3 linked regions of the Homo sapiens genome follow. The protein of the gene in region 1 purifies or fractionates together with the protein of each later gene. This does not show direct contact. Each region holds a gene or a part of one and is shown in the gene's direction. Other genes may lie near its edges. The genes, in order: SPIN2B, PABIR2 and ARHGAP39.

Region 1 (3,749 bases):
GTCCTTTGTAGGGACATGGATGAAGCTGGAAACCATCATTCTCAGCAAACTATCGCAAGGACAAAAAACCAAACACCGCATGTTCTCACTCATAGGTGGGAATTGAACAATGAGAACACATGGACACAGGAAGGGGAACATCACACAATGGGGCCTCTTGTGAGGTGGGGGTAGGGGAGAGGGATAGCATTAGGAGATATACCTAATGTAAATGAGGAGTTAATGGGTGCAGCACACCAACATGGCACACGTATACACATGTAACTAACCTGCACATTGTGCACATGTACCCTAGAACTTAAAATATAATTTAAAAAAATAAAAATGAAAATAAAATAAAAAGCCCTCACTGAAACTATGACATATCTGCAAATTGCTTTCCATAAAAATTGTATAAACTTTCACTTGCATCAGCACTAGATATGAAGCTTTTTCATGATCAATGACATTAAGTAATATTTTAATGTTCTTTCATACTTTGACTGTTGAATCGAGATTATTATTACTTCTATTTTTCCTTGTAGATGTTATTTTATTAAGTGTAGTTGTTCTGTTAACATCCGACTCATCCCCTCATTCAAATACCATAAGTATCTGAATAAGAAAGATACCATTAAGCATTGTTTTGTTTACAGAGTTTTTGGTTGGTTCATTTGCTTTCTGTTCAATTTTATTTTGCTGCTTTTTACCTTTTAATAAATCAAATATTGATACTGGTACAACATTAGTATACAACCTTTCTCAAAATATTTAAATAATTATTTCAACATTCCTTAAAGAATACCCAACGTTTCTCCACTGATTTATAAAACTATAACTTTAATTATTTCTTATAAAGTTATTTTTTTGCAAAGCTTTCTATTCCGATACATAGATCTGATTACTGGTTATTGTGGAAATATTATGTCAAATGCCCAGTACTGGGAGAAAAGCCAAATTATAAATCACTTTAAAATTGAGTTTTACGGACCAAGTGCAAGATATGTAACAGGTGCTCAATAAATATTTGTTGAATGAAAAAATCGATTAGAAAACATCTAATTTCCTGGAAAAATTAATAGACATGAATTGCAGATAAAAAACAAATCCCAGTTTTGCAAAAGTTTAGGAAAAAGGAAAAAAAACTATGAGCATTAATATTTTGCTGTGAGGCCCTCAAAAATGGGAGATGGGACTGCAGTTGATGATTTTCCTCTTAATATTAATTTCCTAAAATGTAGATAGTGTTCACGTTGTACATGCAATTATCTTGCAATAAAGAAAAGGAAAAAAAAATCCCTCGAAAACAAAAACAAAAATGCCAGGAAATATCAGTCAGCAAAAATTAGGTAGAGACTGGGTCAAAATGGCAGACTTACCATAGTGAATTTCTCTGTTCCAACTCCAAATCCTTTCAAAAAGAGGAAAGACATATTTACGTGTAAAGAATAAATCCATAAGGGCATGGGACGGTGCAGGGGCAGGGGTGGGCGCGGGGGTGGGCGCGGGGCGGCAGCAAGGCGAATTCCAAGAAGATGGAAAGCAGGGCAGGCAGACTAAGAAGGTGGAGGTGGGAACCAAGTGGCCCTGAAACGGGTGAGGAAGGGGCCACAGGGTTCCGAGGACGACTGTGGCACGAACTACTCCGGATTTGGAAAGAGGCGGAGTCAGAGCCCATAGCTCCGCCGGGGCTACAGGCTGTGTGGTGGGCGTGGGAGCCTGGTGGAGAGGAGAGCCGGGTGTTTGACAGGAAGAGGAGGCCTCTCTCTGGGCAGGAAGCTGCGCTACGGAAAGAGGGAGGAGACTGCCGCGGCGACAGCAGGGACTGGTGGAATCCCGATGTGGCTGAGGGGCCGCCACCGCCAGCAGGGAGGCGGAGGGCTAGCGAGCCAAGCGGTGGGGACGCCGCTGCCTTCCTCTTTGCCTGTCTCGCCGCCCTCCTAGACACGCTCCTCATCTACGGATCCTACCCTCCCCGCTCTTGCAAGCATTCACTCGGCCGGTCGCCTGCTGACCCTCCTTCGCCACAGGCTCGTAGCGGAGGCAGCAGCGAGGTGTCCGATTTGGGCACGTGAGGCCCGCGATCCCCGGCGGTGGACGCCAGGCAGGGCAAGGCCATTAGTGGGCGCCAGAATGGAGAGGGGGATGGGAAGGAATCCAGCAGGAGACATGGGGTGGAGTTGGGCGCCAGGCAAGGGTGGGGTGGGGGAGTGCGGTGAGCAACATGAAAAGGGGGTAGGAACGGGAGCCAGACAAGGATTTGAAGGTGAGCGCCGGGAAGCAAGGGCGGTGGGTACCAGAGAAGTGGTTAGGGTAGGCAGGGGGTGTTGTGGACAGCAGCTGGGACGCTCAGGGAAGGAGGGCAGTGGGTGCCGGTCAAGGCCTCTTTGCAAGGGGATTGGAAGTGGACGCCAGTGGTAGCAAGGGGTTCCGGGAGGGCAGTGGGCTCTGAGCTAGGAGGAGGTGGCCCAGCCACTTCTGCAGAGTTCCTAACCCCAGACAGCTCTACTGCACCACCCCAGCCCTTCCCCACAGCCCAAAGGAACTTAAGAGGGAGAGCACTGCGGGCATGCAGCCAGGATTTCCAGCATTGCTTCCAGGCTCCTAGGGGAAACTTAGGCACTAGCGCAGACTACATCCAGACATGGCTATAGGGAAAAGTTTGCCTTGTGGCACACTGGGTGTGTCTCTCTATCCTCTCTCCTCCCCCAGCAGGCATGAAGACCCCCAACGCACAGGAAGCCGAAGGGCAACAAACCAGGGCAGCTGCAGGACGGGCCACTGGGTCTGCAAACATGACAAAGAAAAAAGTCTCCCAAAAGAAGCAGAGAGGCCGACCTTCATCCCAGCCCCGCAGGAACATCGTGGGCTGCAGAATTTCTCATGGATGGAAGGAAGGAGATGAGCCCATCACGCAGTGGAAAGGAACCGTTCTGGATCAGGTGCCTATAAATCCCTCTCTTTATCTGGTGAAATATGATGGAATTGACTGTGTCTATGGACTGGAACTTCACAGAGATGAAAGGGTTTTGTCTCTTAAAATTCTTTCTGACAGGGTGGCATCATCTCACATTAGTGATGCCAACCTTGCAAATACCATAATTGGCAAAGCAGTGGAACATATGTTTGAGGGAGAGCATGGTTCTAAGGATGAATGGAGGGGGATGGTCTTAGCTCAAGCACCTATCATGAAAGCCTGGTTTTATATTACCTATGAGAAAGATCCTGTCTTGTACATGTACCAGCTTCTAGATGATTATAAGGAAGGTGACCTCCGCATCATGCCAGAATCCAGTGAGTCTCCTCCAACAGAGAGGGAGCCAGGAGGAGTTGTAGATGGCCTAATAGGTAAGCATGTGGAATATACCAAAGAAGATGGCTCCAAAAGGATCGGCATGGTCATTCACCAAGTGGAAGCCAAACCCTCTGTGTATTTCATCAAGTTTGATGATGATTTCCATATCTATGTCTACGATTTGGTGAAAAAGTCCTAACTGTTAGGGTAAAATTTGGCACATGTGTGGAAACAAATGTATAATTTGTAGACATGCAAAAAATGTTGCCTTTCAGTGTATTGAAAGCTTATGGAATCCCTGATAACTAAACATCTTTGCCAGCATTAACTGTTGTTTTGCTCTAAAAAATACAAACTTGTGTGTACATGACATGCTGTGTGTAAGCCCTTTGTCTTGTTGAAAAGATCGGGTGTGTTTGGTGAATGGGGCATGAAAAGAAGGAACAGCTATCAGAGAGCTTGTGGCTTAGAGGAA
Region 2 (3,749 bases), about 78 Mb from region 1:
AATCCCAGTTACTCGGGAGGCTGAGGCAGGAGAATCGCTTGAACCAAGCAGGCGGAGGTTGCAGTGAGCTGAGATCGCACCATTATACTCCAGCCTGGGCAACAGAGCAAAAACTCTGTCTCAAAAAAAAAAAAAAAAAGAAGATTAACTCTTTTTCCCAATATTTCACTGTGAAATTTTCAGACATCAAAAGTGAAAGAATTTCACAGTGAACAACCATATACCCACTGCCTATAATCTACCATTAACATTTTAACCAGAGTTTTTTCTTTTCTTTTTTTTTGTATTTGAGGTGGAATCTCACTCTGTCGCCAGGCTAGAGTGCAGTAGTGTGATCTCAGCTCACTGAAACCTCTGCCTCCTGGGTTCAAGCATTTCTCTTCCCTCAGCCTCCCAAGTAGCTGGGATTACAGGCATGCGCCACCACCCTCGGCTAATTTTTGTATTTTTAGTAGAGATAGGGTTTCACCATGTTGGCCAGGATGGTCTCAATCTCTTGACCTCGTGCCCTCCTCGGCCTCCCAAAGTACTGGGATTACAGGCGTGAGCCACAGCGCCCAGCCCCAGAGTTTTTTAGGGGGAATTTAATGCTGATTTATATTTAGTGGGGAAAGACACACATACATACCCCCCACAATAATACATCCTTTTTAAGAATAAGGAAAAAATGTTAAAGTTCATAGATCAATCAAATCCAAATTACTTTATTTATTTATTTTTGCGACGGAGTTTTGCTCCTGTTGCCCAGGCTGGAGTGCAATGGTGCGATCTCAGCTCACTGCAACCTCTGCCTCCCGGGTTCAAGTGATTCTCCTGTCTCAGCCTCCTGGGTAGCTGGGATTACAGGCATGCACCACCACGCCTGGCTAATTTTTTGTGTTTTTAGTAGAGATAGAGTTTCACCATGTTGGTCAGGCTGGTCTCGAACTCCTGACCTCAGATGATCTGCTTACCTTGACCTCTCAAAATGCTGGGATCACAGGCGTGAGTCACTGCGGCCCAGCCCCAAAATACTTTTTAAATAGGGTATCTTTTTTTCTTTAAACTGTTGGGGGTATTTTGTCATATAGAATATTTTTTAAAGGACTTAAAATGCTGTATTATTCCAGGTTGCCATATGCTGGTTCAAATCATGTATTGGATTTCAGTTACTCAATTACAGAAGAATTTTCCATTTCAGTCATTGATAAGATTGTCCATTTTATTTATGTATTTGTTGGGCTGGACTGCTGTTTTATCTTGCATCGTGGATGTTCTTCACATTATCCTGTTTGTTTTTTCATCAAAGCAGGAGAAGTCAGAGTCCAGTCAAGTGCATTAGACCCAGTGTTCTTGGTCCTCTTAAAAGAAAAGGTATGTAGCAGCGTGGTGACTATAGCTAATGCTACTGTGTCACATACTTGAAATTTGCTAAGAAAGTAGATCTTAAGTGTTCTTACCACACACATACGAAAGGTAACTAGGTGAAGCAAAAGATGTGTTAAAAACTTGACCGTGGGCTGGGCATGGTGGCTCACGCCTGTAATCCCAATACTTTCGGAGGCCGAGGCAGGTGGATCGCCTCGGGTCAGGAGTTTGAGACCAGCCTGGCCAATATGACAAAATCCCATCTCTACTAAAAATACAAAAATTAGCTGGGCGTGGTGGCAGGTACCTGTAATCCCAGCTACTTGGGAGGCTGAGGCAGGAGAATCGCTTGAACTTGGGAGGCGGAGGTTGTGGTGAGCTGAGATCGTACCACTGCACTCCAGCCTGGGCAACAGAGTGACACTCCATCTCAAAAAAAAAAAAATTGACTGTGATCATCATTTCACAGTATGTACATACATCAGATCATCACATTGTATACCTTAAATATATATAAATTTATTTGTCATTTATACTTCAGTAAAGCTGGGGGGAAAAAGAAAAAGATAAGCATCACGCTTCTGGTCTTATACCTAGCCAAGCTTGAATTAAAAACTAGAACTCCTGTCTGAAATGAGCTAACAGCATTGCTCTCTTGTGTTCTAGGGAAACTCAAAAGTATTCTTCCAAATGTTTGCTGTGCTGATTCTCAATTTTGTAAATGAGTTATTTGATACATCTATATTTTCTTATACTTCATAACAGTTTTATTCATATATTCATATTATCATTATATATTCAAAAAATTGCCTCTCTGTTATCTAAATATGAAAGAGATGCATAGTTTATAAACTGCAGAAATATATGCTAATGCCGTAGCAAACATATCCATAAATGTGCTGTATACTCAAATATAAGGTAAGGTTTACCCCCTCATCAAATTATGCCTCATCAAAGCAAGAATTGCCTTATATTCAATTCTATGGAGTTTTTTATATAACAGGGTGCTCTCAGTTACCTTATTTTGAACCACAAAGCAGTAGGCTAAAATAGTTTAGTTTAGTATCAGTCAACACTAGTGTTAGATGCTTATAAAGGGCACCTGATGGCATCTCTTTAAAAAGGCAATACAGGTCTGTAATACCAGCACTTTGGGAGGCCGAGACAGGAGAATTGCTTTGAGCTCAGGAGTTTGAGACCAGCCTAGGCAACATGGCAAAACCACGTCTCTACAAAAAATACAAAAATTAAGCAGGCGTTGGTGGCTTGTGCTGTTGTCACAGCTACTTGGGAGGGTGAGGCTGGAGAATTCCTTGAGCCCAGGAAGCAGAGGTTGCAGTGAGCCGAGATGGCAGCCTGGGCCACAGAGTGAGACCCTGTCTCAAAAAAAAAAAAAAGCAACACAGGTTTTTGTTTGTTTTTTTTGAGACCGAATTTCGTTCTTGTTGCCCAGACTCTGGAGTGTAGTGGCGTGATCTTGGCTCACTGCAACCTCCACCTCCTGGGCTCAGCGATTCTCTTGCCTCAGTCTCCCGAGTAGCTGGGATTAGAAGCACCCACCACCACCACGCCTGGCGAATTTTCTGTATTTTTAATAAAGGCAGAGTTTCACCATATTGGTCTTGAACTCCTGACCTCAGATGATCCACCTGCCTCGGCCTCCCAAAGTGCTGGGATTACAGGTATGAGCCACCACGCCCAGCCGGCAACACAGGTTTATTCATTATTCCTGGGGATATGACTACATGATTGCAAGTGTCAACGTGTCATTTTAAACGAGTCTTAACAATAACTTTTTTTTTTTTTTTTTTGAGGCAAGGTCTTGCTCTGTCACCCATGCTGGAGTGCAGTGGTGCAATCTCAGCTCACTGCAACCTCTGCCTCCTGGGCTCCTGGGTTCAAGCGATTCTCCTGCCTCAGCCTCCCAAGTACCTGGGATTACAGGAGTACACCACCATGGCCAGCTAATTTTTGTATTTTTAGTAGAGACAGGGTTTCGCCATGTTGGCAACACTGTCCTCAAACTCCTGGCCTCAAGTGATCCACCTGCCTTGGCCTCCCAAATTGCAGGGATTACACAGGTATGAGCCACCATGCCCAGCCATTAACAATAACTTTTTTTTTTTAATTGAGACCAGTCATTAACAATAACTTTTTTTTTTTAATTGAGACGGAGTCTTGCTCTGTCACCCAGGCTGGAGTGCAGTGGTATGATCTTGGCTCACTGCAACCTCCGCCTCCTGGGTTCAAGTTATTCTTCTGCCTCAGCCTCCCAAATAGCTGGGATTACAGGTGCACACCACCACGCCCAGAGAATTTTGTATTTTTAGTAGAGATGGGGTTTTGTCATGTTGGCCAGGCTGGTCTCAAACTCCTGACTTCAGGTGATTGCCTGCCTCGGC
Region 3 (3,749 bases), on another chromosome or scaffold:
CAGCCTGACCCCCAGAGTGAAGTTGCAGGTGAAGTAGTGTGGCCTCAGTCCCTGGCCTGCCCACTACAGTTGTGACACCGGCAGCTGCCTGCTGAGCACTGCAACAGACAGGCATTGTCACAGTCCCCATCCTACAGAGGAGTAAACTGAGGCACAGAGAGACTGCATTATGATCACCTTCATCAGCTGAGAGGCGGTGGCCCCAGTGTATCCCAGTCACAGAGTGTTGGAGGGTGTCCCAGTCCCAAGCAGGCTCAGGCTGGGGTGTTTGTCCCACCAGGGGCCTGGGGACAGGAGATCAGGGCCTGTCTTCCCGCAGGGACAGCAAGCAGGAGGCCCAGCCCTGCCGTCTGCCCCAGGCCCCCCAGCCTAGTGACTACATGTCCCAGCTGCTGAGCTGAGGCCCTGGGTTTCTGCCGCCTTCCTGCAAAGCTCATTCCCTCCTTGCCTTCTTGAGGCTCTGAAGCCTGGGTCCAGTGTGCGTGGGCACCATCCATTCTAGAAAAACAAGGGTACCTCATAGCCTGCCCAGAGGGGCCCTTGGTTCCACATGGTCCCACGCTGGAGGCTGGGGCCACATCCTCTGCCAAGACCTGTGGTCCCAAGGACCATGACAGATTTTCTAGGACCTAAACGTCTATGAAAAAAAAAATTCATTTTGGTTCCTCTAAAAAAGAGTCTCCTTAGCAGTCACATGTCAACTATTCTGTGATAATTAGAGATGGACTCAAGACACGTGTGCACTTTTTTTTAACCTGGTCCAAGGACCCCATGCCCTCAGCTGTCCACCAGAAACTGCTCCTTCAAAGAAGACAAAGGTGTTCCGATTGGGGGTCAGGATCCAGAGGCCCCCCTCACCCTGGCAGGCGGTAGGCGCTGGGCGCTGGGGCAGGTCTCATGTCCAGAAGCACAGGGTCCTGTCCATCTGTCCGAGGTCCATGGCTCCCCTGGCCCCAGACAGCTTCTCTTGGCGTGTTCTCTCATCTGCTGCTTCCCGACCTGGAGCAGGAAGGTGCCGCGCCTTCCAGACCCAGCCTGGGAATCCTCTCCCCTCTAGCACCTTCCCCTGGGCTCTGTGTCTGGAGACTCCCCAGGCTGAGGTCCCTGAGTCCCTCATCAGGTGCTGACTCAGGCACACTGCCCCTCCCCTCAGGGACCCTGCTGTCGGGCTGAGTTTTAGGAAGCCCCTCCTTTGAGAAAGGAGACTGGGCCCTCTCATTGCTGCCTCAGTCCTTCAGAAGAGCCCAGAGGTGGTACTTCAGGCCCAGGGCTGCAGCAGAGCTGGGCTTGCTGTGCAGATAGCTCAGTGCCTGCCTCCCCCAGCACTGGCTGCGGGTGCTGGGTAGGTGGAAATGACTCCTCCAGGGGCTCCTGCCCACAGCCTAAAAGCCAGGGAGGGGCCTGAAGCAGAGAAGAGTCAAATACCTGGACAGCTCCCTGGGTCAGGCCCCGGGGAGGGAGCAGTGGGGTCTAGAGGCCCTCAGACCCAGGTCCTGCCCTTCCTGTTCCTGCGTGGCCGTAGGAGGGCAGGTGGAGCTGCCAGGCGGTTCCTCCCAAGCCTGTCCCTCTGCAGGTGGGGAAGTGCTCCTTGGGCCTCTGCTCTAAAGGACACTGCCTGGGAGAGTGTGAGGACCCGCTGTGCTGGGCAGGGGGTGACCGGGGCAAGGCCAGCCCAGCCCCCCAGGGCCCTCGAAGGAGCTGTGTCTGCTCACCCCTCTCCTGGCCCCACACCCACACACCCACATCAGGCTGATCAGGCCCCTTTCCTTTCCAGGGGTGGCGATAAGCACGTATGCCAAGTACTGTTACCACAAGCTACAGAAGGCAGCCCTGACCGGGGCCAAGAAGGTACGGGTGCGCCTGGGGGGCCGGGGAGGGCAGGCGGGGACACAGAGACCCTTGGTGGACAGCCCCAGGAGCCCCGCCTGCAGTTTGGTATGGGGCAGCAGCGCAGAGGGTGCCACATGGAGCCCGCCTAGGCGGGTGGCGGGGTACGCTAGGCTGACCCCGTGTTCTTCTGGGCTGCACCCTCCCCCGGGGGCTCTTCCTGGGCCCGGACCCCCAGCTCAGGAGCAAGGCAGGCAACGGGCTCAGTCACACCGCACCACAGGGACAGGACCCCGTTCCCTGGACCTGTCCCAAGAGCCTGGCCCCTTCCCCACATCCTCTTCTCTCTGATGCGCTGCTCCCATCATACCCCTCCCCAGCGCTCTCAGCCCTGCCACAGACTTCTGGAAGTTTCACCCCAGCTCAGCTAGCTTGGCCTCTGCTGTGCTCCCCAACAGCCCTGGCCGGCCCAGGACTCACTCCCACCTTCCCAAGGGCCCCTGTGAGCTGGTGCTGTAGACGGTGACTCTGGCCAGGGAGCTGGGCTTGTCCGTAGCTCTAGTTGGAGCCAGGAGTTCACAGGGATGAGAGGAGGGGGAGGCAGAGCCAGGGGCAGCCCAGGAGGAGTTAGGGTTTGGGGGGCGAGGAGGGCTGGTCCAGGGATGGACAGTGGCCTGGGGAAACACCACACTCGGACCCAGGTGTGTGGGGCAGGAATTCTGAAGAGCGCCACCCACCTATGTTCGGGGAAAGAAGACAACCGGGGTGGCGGGGGGTCCTGAGGATGGCCAGGCCAGACCAGGACGGAGCCTCTGTCTTCACAGGGGCTGAAGAAGCCCAACGTGGAGGAGATCCGGCATGCCAAGAACGCCGTGTTCAGCCCGTCCATGTTCGGCAGCGCACTGCAGGAGGTCATGGGCATGCAGAGAGAGCGCTACCCCGAGCGCCAGCTGCCCTGGGTGCAGACACGGCTCTCTGAGGAGGTGCTGGCGCTCAACGGTGACCAGACAGAGGGCATCTTCAGGTGCCACGGCAACCCCGGGCGCCGGGTGTGGGGGCCACAGCCATGTGTCCACCATGCATCTGTGGCATGCAGGGGCCATTAAGCCTCAGGCCCACTGGGCTGCTTCCGCACCCATACCTGAGAGCAGATGGAAGGGTGGGGCCACAGTGTGGAAGCTGACCCTGAGGGTGTGCAGGCCAGGAGAGAGGGCAGGACCCATTCCAAAGAGGCAGCACAGCCAGCCAGGGAGGGCGCCCCTGCAGAGACGGCCACCAGGGGTCCAGAGCGTGCTTGGACACCAGCCATGGGTAGCCTGGAGTGGGAGCCTCAGATGACAGGCAGCCCTTGTCTGTGAACAGGGATGGCACAGGGTGCCACCCACTCCCATGACTCACCTGTCAGGGCAAGGGGTACCCAGGCCCCAGGAGGGCAGCTGGGGAAACTGAGGCTTGCAGGTTGAGCCCCAGTGGCCCTTTGGTGAGGGCATCCACCCAGGGAGCCAGCAGGGGTCCAGGGAGGGACGGTGGCCTGGGGAAGCACCACACTCGGACGCAGGTGTGTGGGGCAGGAATCCTGAAGAGCGCCACCCACCCACGTTCGTGGGAAAGAGGCCAACCGGGGTGGCGGGGGGTCCTGAGGTTTTGCTCCCCTCCCCGGGTCAGCAGGGGCCTACCGGAGGGAGTGTCCAGGCGGAATCATGAAGCCGCAGCACAGGCTCCTGTTGCCTGAGACCTGCCCTGTGCCCTGCAGGGTCCCTGGGGACATTGACGAGGTGAATGCCCTGAAGCTGCAGGTGGACCAGTGGAAGGTGCCCACAGGCCTGGAAGACCCCCACGTCCCTGGTGAGTCCCCCACACACGCTGCAGCAGAGCGGGCCTGGCTCAGGCAGTGGTTCTCAGGGGCCCCTGTCTCCGCCTCT

The links.
Region 2: the proteins of SPIN2B (region 1) and PABIR2 purify together in Homo sapiens (affinity purification with mass spectrometry; 3 studies listed by BioGRID and IntAct, with this or other methods). This does not show direct contact.
Region 3: the proteins of SPIN2B (region 1) and ARHGAP39 purify together in Homo sapiens (affinity purification with mass spectrometry; 3 studies listed by BioGRID and IntAct, with this or other methods). This does not show direct contact.

What each region holds. Positions count from the first base shown.
Region 1 is NC_000023.11:57,119,577-57,123,325, reverse strand, and holds SPIN2B (spindlin-2B), read left to right. Parts: upstream 1-1,777; 5' UTR 1,778-2,088; exon of another isoform or gene 2,089-2,112; coding exon of another isoform or gene 2,113-2,245; intron 2,246-2,691; coding exon of another isoform or gene 2,692-2,696; coding exon 2,697-3,473; 3' UTR 3,474-3,644; downstream 3,645-3,749. UniProt on the Homo sapiens protein: Involved in the regulation of cell cycle progression, this activity is related to the inhibition of apoptosis following the removal of essential growth factors. Exhibits H3K4me3-binding activity.
Region 2 is NC_000023.11:134,783,490-134,787,238, reverse strand, and holds part of PABIR2 (PABIR family member 2), read left to right. Parts: intron 1-1,288; coding exon 1,289-1,353; intron 1,354-3,749.
Region 3 is NC_000008.11:144,532,228-144,535,976, reverse strand, and holds part of ARHGAP39 (rho GTPase-activating protein 39), read left to right. Parts: intron 1-1,774; coding exon 1,775-1,848; intron 1,849-2,651; coding exon 2,652-2,851; intron 2,852-3,580; coding exon 3,581-3,672; intron 3,673-3,749.